Linked DNA regions of Homo sapiens: region 2 is linked to region 1. The links come from fine-mapping of genetic effects on gene expression. Tissue or cell type: whole blood. Region 1 holds a variant in brackets; the other region holds the start of a gene. All regions are shown on one strand. Distances are from middle to middle.

Region 1 (5,360 bases):
TATGGCTGAATAATATTCCATGGTGTATGCAGACCATGCTTTGTTGATCCACTCATCAGCTGAGGGCCACGGGGGTTCTCTCCCCTGGTTAGTGGTTGCGCATAGAGCTCAGTGAACATGCGTGAACGGAATTTGTTTACAACCCCGCTCTCAGTTCTCTTGTGCATACTTGGGAGTGGAATTGCTGGGTCGTATGGTGCATCTTTCTGCTAGGGCAGCCACAGCAAAAGGCCACAAGTGGAGAGGTTTCAGCAGAACTTTTTTTTCCCCACATTTCTGGAGACTGGGAGGTCCAAGATCAAGGTGTCAGACGATGGGTTCCTGGAGAGGGCTCTCCTGGCTTGTAGTCGGCCACCTTCTCACTGTCCTCATGCAGCGGGGAGAGGGCCCTGGCGTCGCTTCCTCCTCCTATAAGGGCTCCAGCCGTATGGGATTAGGACCCACCCTGATGACCTCATTTAACCTAAAGATCCCATCTCCAAATAGAGTCACGTCAGGGTCAGGGCTTTGACATACGAATTTATGTGGGGATGTGATTCCGTCCATAGCAGATGGTAATTCTACAGATGGGGGTTCTCAGGGCCAAGGCAGATCAGGGCAGGTGGTAATTCTACAGATGATGGTTATCGGGGCCAGGGCAGATGGGGCAGGTGCTATTCTGTAGCTGGGGGTTCTCAGGATGAGGGCAGATAGGGGAAGGTGATAATTCTACAGATGGGGTTCTCAGGGTGAGGGCAGATGGGGCAGGCGGTAAGTCTATAGATGGGATTCCTGGGGCAAGAGCAGATCAGGGCAGGTGGTAATTCTATAGATGGGGGTTCTCAGGGTGAGGGCAGATGGGGCAGGTGGTAATTAATTCTATAGATGGGGGTTCTCAGGGTGAGGGCAGATGGGGCAGGTGGTAATTAATTCTATAGATGGGGGTTCTCAGGGTGAGGGCAGATGGGGCAGGTGGTAATTCTATAGATGGGGGTTCTCAGGGTGAGGGCAGATGGGGCAGGTGGTAATTCTATAGATGGGGGTTCTCAGGGTGAGGGCAGATGGGGCAGGTGGTAATTCTACACATAGGGGTTCTCAGGGTGAGGCAGTGAGGGTAGCTGCAAACACTGGGCTGGAGGCCTGGTTCCAAGAGTCAGGGCCTCCTTGCTCTCCGCACCCTTGGGTGTAAAGTGGCGGATGTGGCTCTCTGCCCTGCGCAGGGGTATCAGGCCATGCGTGACAGATGCCTGTTCCCCACTCCTGCTCAGGAACTCCTTGGACAAGGCTGCGTGTTCCAGGAGCGGCATGGCTGGGAGCGACCGGGATGGTTTCATCCCCGAGGCCCAGCTCCGGTGAGTAGTGCCTGCTGGGCTGTGCTGCTGGGAGGCCCTGCCCTGACAACCCCCTTGCCCCTCCACGTGCCCCGTCCTTGCCCCTCCGTGTGCCCCGCCTCCCCAGGTGGTTCCACTGTCGTGATCAGTTATTCTGCACACGGGAAGCCGAGCCCTGCCGACCTGCCCCCAAGGCTCAGTGCATTCTTTGTGCCGTTCACGCAATTCCCACTCCTCGTCCTCCCCACTACCCGTCCGCTGTGGCCAGGCCTTCCATGGCCTAAGTGGGAAGGGCTGTAGGCAGAGCAGAAGGGGTGTCCTGCGGTGGGGAGACAGCAAGAAGACTCCCCCAGGTTGCAGGAGGAATGGAGCGTCTCCTAATTCTGTGCATCTATTTTTGGCCACTCCGACTGTTGGTTTATGTCCGTAGGAGGGCAGGCACTGGGCAGGTTGATGCACCCAGGGTGCTCAGTTTCCCAGTGGAGGTTTCACAGTGGCCTGGACTCTGGGCGTCCTCTGGGGACTCCCAGGGACCTGGGTCCTCAGTGAGAGGAACAAAGGCAGTCCTGCTGTGAAACCTGGGACCCAGACCCTCGGGAGCAGGGGACGCGAGGCCTTAAGGCCAGCTGAGGGGTAGCATTTGATCCAGATTTACAGAAATCGAAATCCCCTTCCCGGGGCTGCGTCTCACCAGTCCCCTCTGGTGCACCCACCTTCCATCCCCATGGCAACCCACAGCCCAGGCCAGGCTCCAGAGCTCCAGGGCATCGGGAGGGGAGATGAGAGCCAGAGCTGGCTAACGGGGCCACGGCTCTGGGGTCAGAGCCTTGCAGGTCATCGTCTCTTCTCCTGCTGGCCCCTAGGGACATGCCGTCCTCATGAACCCTGCGGGGAGGAGGGGTCTGGGCAGACCCTGTCTTGAAGTGCAACCCACTGTGTTCCAGTCAGATCTGGCCCTGGAAGCCCCTCTCCCCTGTCCCTGGGCGAGGAGAGGAGAGTCAGGAACACACCCCAGGTCCCAAGATGGGCGGATTTTGCACCCCCACCCGGGAGCCAGCCTGGGTGTCCAGGACACCTTGGCAGGGCTGCAGTGGGTGGGATGTCCCTGCTGGGGAGGGGGGTACTCCATGCAGAGATGCCAGCAAAGCCTGACTCCCTTACAACCTCACACTGGCTCCCACTTGTGTGTGAAGAGGAGGTGAGGCTTGGGCGG[A/G]CGGGGCTGGCAGCCCTGGGAGGTTAAGAATTGCCCACACCTGCATTCACAGCTGTGCCGTGTCGGCAGTTAGGAGGGCAGGTGGCGGGGTGGGGGGTTGTCTGCAGGAGCAGCGGCCAGGGAGGGGCATGGGGCTGTGGGGCTGTGGGGTGTCTGATGGGGGCAGATCCCAGGGAGGCCAAGGCAGTGGCAGAAAAGCTGGACTCTGGAGCCCACGCACCTGCCTGGCTTCGTGCCACTGCCAGGTCCAGGACTTGTCTGTGCCCTTGGGCGAGATATAACTTCTCTGCGCCTCACTTTCCTCATCTGTAGAAAGGGGCACACCTGGTAGGAGTGTAAGACGCTTCCCGCAGGGGCTGGCCCAGAGCAGGAGCTGGGCCTGGGATTGCCGTGGCTCCAGGGAGCAGCCCTGGCTGAGGTCCTGGGTAACCACCTCTCCCTGTCGTTCCCCACCTTGGGTGCATCCAGCTCCTCCTCCAGCCTCCTGGGCCCTGGCTGGGCTCTCAGACCCACCAGGCAACCCTGCGGCCTCCTTTGTGCCTCTGTTTTGCCTGGACCTCATGGGGGCCCCCTGCCCGCGTCCACAACACACGGGCACTCAGTGCAGGGCTCTCCGAGGGCAGGGCCAGGCCTGACCCCATCACAGCCTCAGCGGGACCCCGCTCTGGGGAGGGAAGCGGGGAGGGGCCAAAGAGGCAGGCTGAGGACCACGTCTTTTCTTCCCAGGTCCTCGAGTACGACTACTACGGGGCTTACGGGAGCCGCGCGCACGAGGACTACGCCTACCGCAGGCTGCTGGCAGACGAGTACACCTTCGCCTTCCCGCCCCACCACGACACGGTGCGTAGCTGGGGTCCACCGTGGGGGTCCGTCCTTCTGCCTGTCCCTCAGATAAGCCATTGCGCCGGCCCTCGGCTGGCCCTGCAGGGGCTCCCCTCCCCCAGGAGTCTCTTCGGGCTCTGCATTCACGCTTTTTTCGGCTGACTCCATTTTGAGGAGGAATCATGCGTTTTCCTCTCCCCCTCCTCCCTCTGTGCCGAGATTTTGCCAGCAGCCAGGCCTGAGCGGAAGTGGTGCTGCTGGGGATGGGGTGAGGTGGGGGCGGAGGCAACGGGCTGGGGCCCGGTGGGGCTGCACCGCTCTGAGCCTCCGCCTCCCGCTCTCCGGAGCTGCGCCGAGGCTGGCATGAGACGTGGTGGGGGAAGGGGGTCCTCCCTCCTGGAAGCCAGCGCAGAGTAGATCCAGGACAAGGGGGCCGCAGGCTCCTGGGCATCAGGCCCCGTATGGGCCCCTCCAAGGGACAAGCAGAGGGAACCAGAGCCGGGAGGGCCGTGGCCTGGAGCCTGCTTGCTGTTCCTCTGGCTCCAAAGTGGGCAGGCGAGGCTGCTCACACGGGGCAGCTGGCAGCCCGTCGCCCCTGCCTGGGGACCTGGCTCCCACGTGCAGGGGGTGGAGGTGAGGAGTCTTGGGGGTCTTCTCCCCCGCAGCAGCCTGCACCACACAGGGGCGTTCTCCCCCGCAGCTGTCCGGGAAGGAGCGAGGCCAGCGTCTGCCCTGGCCTGCCCAGTCGTGTTGTAAAGTGCTCACAGGTGGAGCACAGCTGTTGTCCCCGTGCCACCCCAGGGAGACGCGTGACACCTCACTGCGAATCTGACATAGGAGCAGAGCCAAGGCCTGAGCCCAGAGTCTCAGAGCCCAGGGACAGCTTAGGAGGCATCCACGAGGGGGTTCCTTCCTGGGGCCTCTAGGCCAGTCGCAAGTCCGGCTTGGGTAGGGTCTGACCCTGCGGTCGTCCGTTGCCTTGAAGGGCCCCGCTTGGGTTCATGCTGTGCTGTCAGTGCCTTGAGACTCTTCATGGTCTTTGAGCAAGGTCCCCACTGGGTCCCGCACTGGGTTCTGTAGCCAGTTCTGAAGGGAATAAACCGTTCATTTCCACCATCTCCCCGAAAGCTTGCTCTAGTGGTGGAACATCTGTTCAAGGCGTCGGAAGAGGGGGCTCCTGCAGGAAGGAGGAGGCGTGTGTGTCATGAAGCGCCGCAGCAGCAGGGCCGGCTCAGTGCCCGAGTCCCTTGTCGCTGCCTCCCAGGGAGTGCTCGGGGCTCCGTCTGGCACCTCCGCACCCACAGCTTCTAAAGCCTGTGGGACTCTGGCCCTCGAGGATGTGGGAGCTCGGGGGAGATGCCAACTTGGCTTTGTGGCTTCATCCGGCCTCCGCAAACGCGCCTGAAGCCGTCCTAAAGCACGAAACACGTGCTTGTTCTTGGCGCTGGCAGCTTCCCCGGCCTGCTAGAGGAGCCCAGCGCGGGAGGCTGCTGAGGGTTTTGGTTGGCAGCCCCGGTGGCATCAGCAAAGGTACAGCAGAAACCGACAAAGGGGAGCCCTGTCCTGAAGGACAGTGATGCCTGGTGGGGCTGGAGAAGCCATGGAGAGCTCAGGAGGCAGATGGTCCCTGTGGTGTGCTGGTAACAGCTTAACAACCAGCTCTCTGGGGCAGAGGGGAGGAAGCTGGCTCTGTAGCACCGGCCAATTTCCCTGATGTAAATGCTTTCTCCATGGCTGATTTCAATCCAGTCCGCCAATGAGGCATCACTGAATGTGGAGCTGGGCAGGGATCTGCCTGACCAGCTGTCAGGGTCAGTGCACCCCTGCACAGCCTGGCTGGACCATAACTCTGCCACTGCCTGGCTGTGCCACCATCCCTGGCCTCCCTGAGTATGTGAGGGGTAATATGAGTTCCCTTGTGGAAACTCAAAGGGAGTTTGGGAGGAGATGAAACAGCTTCCCGACACACGGCAGCTGTTCAGGAAGCTGTGGTTGTTGCTGTCATGATTATTTTT
Region 2 (5,360 bases), 35 kb before region 1:
GAATGCCTGTGCCCAGATGGCTTCAGGCCTGGAGCAATTTCCACCTGCCTCTGTGCATCGGTGTCAGGCAGATGGGGGCAGCCACCTGCTTCTCAGGAAGGACCACCCTTACCCTGGGAGGGCATCTCTTCTACTTTGACAGAGGATAGAAAACATTCTGTCTTCATGAAATCACGGGGATATTCAGTGGTAGTTTTCTTTTTCAGGTTCTTATTGAAAAAATAAAATCTTGGCAGTGTAAATTCAGCCCTTGAAAATTGTTCTGGAAATTTCCCTGGCCCATGAATCACCTGGGTCTGGCACCTGTTGGCTGTGTTCTCCCTCAGTTTTCCCATCTCCACGATGGGTAGCAGTTGTTGCTGTCTCATTTGAGATGACACGTGTGAAGCCTTTAGCACGCTGCCTGACTCCCAGGAGGCCCTCAGAGGTGACTGGGGCACTGCCTTCCTCCTGGTCAGTGGTGATGTTGGCTCTTATAGTTTGGGTTGGGATGCTGTTGCTCATGTCCTCTTTCACAGGGCTGCACGCAGAGCTCGGTGGAGGAGCCTCCTCCCCCAACGCCTCCGCTTCTTCCTCCCTGGACTTCTGCCCCGTCAGAGGGCAGCCTGCAGGCACCTCTCTCTGTCCTGGAAGCCTGGCCAGCAAGTCGGGGCCAAGGGCTGGTGGGGGCCTGCAGAGAGGGCCAGCCTGAGCCAGAGGAAGAGTCTTGGGGTTGGCTCAGGTATGTCCAGGCCATGAGGGCAGAGGAACAAGTCTACCACAGTCCCCACTGGAGCGGTGGCGGGGAGGCTGGGGAGGGCAGTGAACCTGGAGGCAGCCCCTCACTCCTGAATGTAGAGTCAACTGTGACTTTGATTTGCACCACAGTTTTCTTCAGAGTGCACTAAACATAGAGTCATACTCATTTTACGAGACCAGCATTACCCTGATACCAAAGCCAGATAACATTACAAGAAAGAAAATTATAGACCGATATCCTTGATGAACATAGATGCAACAATCCTCTCAAAATATTAGCAAACCAGCTGGGCGCGGTGGCTCACACCTGTAATCCTAACGCTTTGGGAGGACGAGGTGGGGGGATCACTTAAGGTCAGGAGTTCGAAACCAGCTTGGCCATTCATGGTCAAACCCCGTCTCTACTAAAAATACAAAAAATTAGCTGGGCACGGTGGTGCGTGCCTGTAATCCCAGCTACTTGGGAGGCTGAGGGAGGAGAATCGCTTGAACCGGGAAGGCGGAGGTTGCAGTGAGCCGAGATCGTGCCACCGCACTCCAGCATGGGCGACAGAGCAAGACTCCGTCTAAAAAAAAAAAAAATTAGCAAACCAAATTCAACAGCACATTAAAAAGATCATGCACCGTGATCAAGTAGATTTTATCCCTGGTGGGGTGACTTCTTTGAGGTGGCAGCCCCTCTGTTGGTGTGATCTAGAGCAGGACTGAAGGAAATTTACTCAGGGAAATTTACAAGGCTTCTGTGAAACTGACATGGCAGGGCTTCCAGCCTCCTGTTCCAAGATGGGAAAACTAAGTCTCAGCAAAGGGAGAGGTGATAAGACCAGCCCGAGATCGTACAGGACCCTGTCTTGGCCTCCTTGTCCGGAGCCTGGCCTCTCCAGAGCTGTGACTACTAGTCCCTGGGGGGAGACAGCCTTTCCACCTCTCCCAGACCGGAGCTGGGTGCTAACAGGCCCTGCCGGATGAAAATCCTACGATACTAACAGACAGCTAACAGGCCGGGACCGGCCCCCAGCCACCACCCCTTGTCCAAAGTGCAGGTTCATTGTGCTGCCCTCTTGGCTTGTAACAGTTTTGCAACAGTTGCAACTTGTCTTTGAGTGCAGGGACAGGAGAAGTGTGGGCTACCCGGCCACTGCCCTGGAGCTGTGGTGACTGCTGCGTTTTTCTCCCATGCACTTGCACGTCCAGGACTCCTGGGAGAACTTGGGCCACACTCCTTCCTTGCCCTCTTGAGCTCATTCGTCACCCTGTTGGGTGAGCACAGCCCTAGCTCAGGCCACTGGGCAAGCCACACCATCCAAAGAGGAGGTCCTCTGCCCCAGGACCCCCACACCACCCCAGGTAAGCCTCAAACTGGCGGGGCCAGCTTTCCACTGGGCAGCCAGGGGCCTAAGCCAGTGGGCCCTTTGCCTTTGAGGCAGGGACTGAGAATGGTGTCAGCACGTGGTCAGGCCCAGAGCCCAGGCCCCCTCCTCTAAGAGGTCCTCCTGGATTCCCTGCTGGAAGGAAGCCAGCCTTGTGGTGTCGTGTCTCTCCCTGGATCTGTCTGCTTCGTGGACCCTGAGCCCCTCGAGGGCAGGGGCTGGGTCTTAGATGTCACTATAGGTTTCCCAGCAGTGCTTTGTACACATTGGGCATTCAGTAAATGTAGAGGATAGACAAGCTGGCAACAAGACAGTCGGACATCCTCGGTGTGAATAAGAACACAATGATTTGATTGGTATTAATTACAGCAGTTTACTATACGATCGCTTCCGGTATTGGCAGCTGGCATCATTACAATATTAACAGACTGCCATTGAAATGCCCCGTCTTTGATCCAGCGCGAGGAGGAGATGTGACTTTCCATCAGCACCTGTTCTGATTCTTTGGGCATCCAGAGGTGTATTCTTTCTGGGTTTCCTCCACACCCCTCCTCTGGGTGTCTACTTCTGTCTGGGAAGGGGTAACTTGCCCCAGCCCAGAGTCAGGCTGCAGCATCCGGTCTGCCTCCTCCACCAGCTTGCTGTGTGGCCCCCTCCCTGGGCACTGCTGTCCCCAACAGTCAATGGAGGCTGGAATCCCTGCCCTGGGGGCTACGTGCTGTGCAGTAGCCAGTGGCTTGGGGGCATCTCCCCAAACACCAGAGGGGTCTGGGAGCTCGGGAAAGCAGGACGCAGACAGACCAGGAGACCCTGTCCCTGGGAAGCTGACCCAGGCCTTCTCACTCGCCTCTGAAGGCAGTGAGCATCCTGTCCCTGGGGGTGAGCAAACTGGGGCATGTGCTGAGATGACCTCACCAAAGGAGCCTCCCTGCAGTGGACGGGCCCCTGGCCCAAGCTGCTGCTGACCCCACCTTTCCTGCCCACCCTGCCTGTGCATAGCTCCTTCTGGGCGCGGGGAGCTCGGGCGGCTCCAGCAGGCAGGTGGTGCCTGGGTCTACTGCAGCAACCCTGAGGCGCCTGTTTCAGAGACGAGGAAATGAGGGTTGGAGCGGAAGGGTGACTGCCAGGTCGCCTACGGGTAATGGGGCATGGGGTTCACAACCCTGCTCTGCCGCCCTCAGAGGGAGCTGCCCACAGGGCTGGCCTAGAAGCCCCAACTAAGCTGGCCTAGAAGCCGCAGTGGTGGGCGGTACGCTCCGCCCAGATCCTGGGCGGAGACATGGGGCTGGCAGCGAGGGTGGGGGGCGGGGGAGGCCTGGAGTTCCGGCCAGGCCACTGCTTGGGAAGCAAGAAGGTGAAGGCACCTCTGCTGGGCCAAGCACTCTTAGGGCCGAGGGGCACTGCAGCTGACAAGAGGTACTTGGAGGTACACCCCCAGGGAGGGACGAGGCTGGGGCCTCCCCTATGTGGGCGGGGCTGGGCCTGGTCAGATCTGGCTGGGATCTCCCTCTGCCTCTGGCTGCAGGGACCATCCAGCTGCATGAGCAGGACCAGGGTTCACCATATGGGCAGCTGCCTCCCCGCCCCCTGCCGCTCCTCCCCACAAGTCTGCCTACCCTCACCAGGCGAAGGTGCCAGGCGCTCTCCTCGCTTGACCCCCACCACCCCCTGAGCCTGGGAGGAGGAGGGCGTTCCTGGGTCCTCTGCTTTGCAGTGAGGTTAAGTTGTTGCTCGAGGCCCCAGTCCTGTGACAAAACCCCCACCCATCTGTCTGATCCCAAGCCCAGGGCTGTCCTCAGCCCTCACTCCTGGGAAGCTGACTCAGGTACGAGACAGAGTTGGAGGGGGCAAGAGAGTGGGTTAATGTGGAGGCAGCTGTTTCCAGGGAGGTGGCAGGCAGGAGGGGCTCTGGGCTGTCCCCGCTGGGGCCGCTGCCAGCCCCCAGTCTGACAGTCAGAAGAGCCCTGACTGACCAGGCAGGTGGTGAAGGGGCACGTGGCAGCCTCCGGCGCCAGCAGCTGTCGCTTTTTGGGCACAGTCGGAAGGAGGAGGGAGGCTTTTGCCCACAGCTGACCAGGTGTGCTGTGCCATGCGGCACCGTGGTGGGTGGTGGGTGGTGGGGTGGGGGTGTTCAGCCTTGGAGGGCCTTCCTCGGTGCCACTCAAGCTGGCTTTCCCCTGGTGGGGCACCACTTTTGGGGGCTCCTGGAAGACTGTGGACCTTCAAGGACTGAAGGTATGTACAGACACATGCAGGAGGCATGCCTCCTTGTCCGGGGCCACCTCTGCAGGCAGGAGCCAGGCGGGCTGACACACTGAGGGCTGAGAGGCTGAGGACAAGCTCCAACACCTCCTCACTCCCCTACGCCGCTGCAATCAGACTCCCTGCTCCCTCCCTTGGGATGGGGCACTGGGGCAGGAGATGGGGGGCAGCCCTGACCAGCCTGAGAGCTGGGATCCCCCTCACATCCCCCACTGTGCCTAGGACAGGGTTCTGGGCTTCGTCAGGGCTTGGGCAGTGCCCACAGTTCAGGTGGGACAGAGTGTGGCAGTGGGTCCTGAGTCCCCCTGGGATGGTCAGAAGAGGGGGCAGGAGAGAGTCCCTGGCACTGCCACATGGAGGCCCTATGACCCTGGTCACCTCAGGGAGCCTCTCCGTGTGTCAGACTCCCCCGCTGTGAAGTAGAGACATTATCATGTGTCTATAGGTGTTCAATGAGAGTGAACGAACGTGCATAGCTATGGTCCACTCTTGAAAAAGGATGCTGACTTTCTTAGATAATTATATCAGTCATTCATACTGACGTAGGTGGCACAGCACTTCACATCTTGGATCACAGCCACATCCCTTTCACTTTTCCTGCAGATCCCAGAAAAGGGCAGTGGAGGTCCACACTGGGCAGGACACCACCCCACCCTTCCATTGAGGGCTGTTGTGAGACCTCCGTTCTTAACTTCTTAGTTTAAAGAATTTAGGCTGGGCACAGTGGCTCATGCCTGTAATCCCAGCACTTTGGGAGGCCGAGGCAGGCGGATCACCTGAGGTCAGGAGTTCGAGACCAGCCTGGCCAACATGGTGAAACCCTGTCTCTACTAAAGATACAAAAATTAGCCAGGCATGGTGGCATGCACCTATAATCCCAGCTACTCGAGAGGCTGAGGTGGGAGAATCGCTTGAACCCAGGAGGCAGAGGTTGCAGTGAGCCAAGATCATGCCACTGCACTCCAGCCTGGAAGACAGAGTGGGACTCTT

Evidence for each region. PIP is the estimated chance that this variant, and not a neighbour inherited with it, causes the effect.
Region 2: SARDH starts here. The variant in region 1 is fine-mapped to the expression of SARDH in whole blood (TOPMed, PIP above 0.99).

Annotation. Positions count from the first base shown.
Region 1 is chr9:133,700,919-133,706,278 of GRCh38, reverse strand. It overlaps SARDH (sarcosine dehydrogenase), which reads left to right. Exons shown (of 21, transcript NM_001134707.2): 12 at 1,248-1,331; 13 at 3,250-3,363. Among named protein-coding and RNA genes, the nearest start is that of SARDH, 35 kb to the left of the region's middle. The variant A/G (reference allele first, on the strand shown) is at 2,524.
Region 2 is chr9:133,736,418-133,741,777 of GRCh38, reverse strand. SARDH (sarcosine dehydrogenase) reads left to right here and starts at 3,426. Exons shown (of 21, transcript NM_001134707.2): 1 at 3,426-3,524.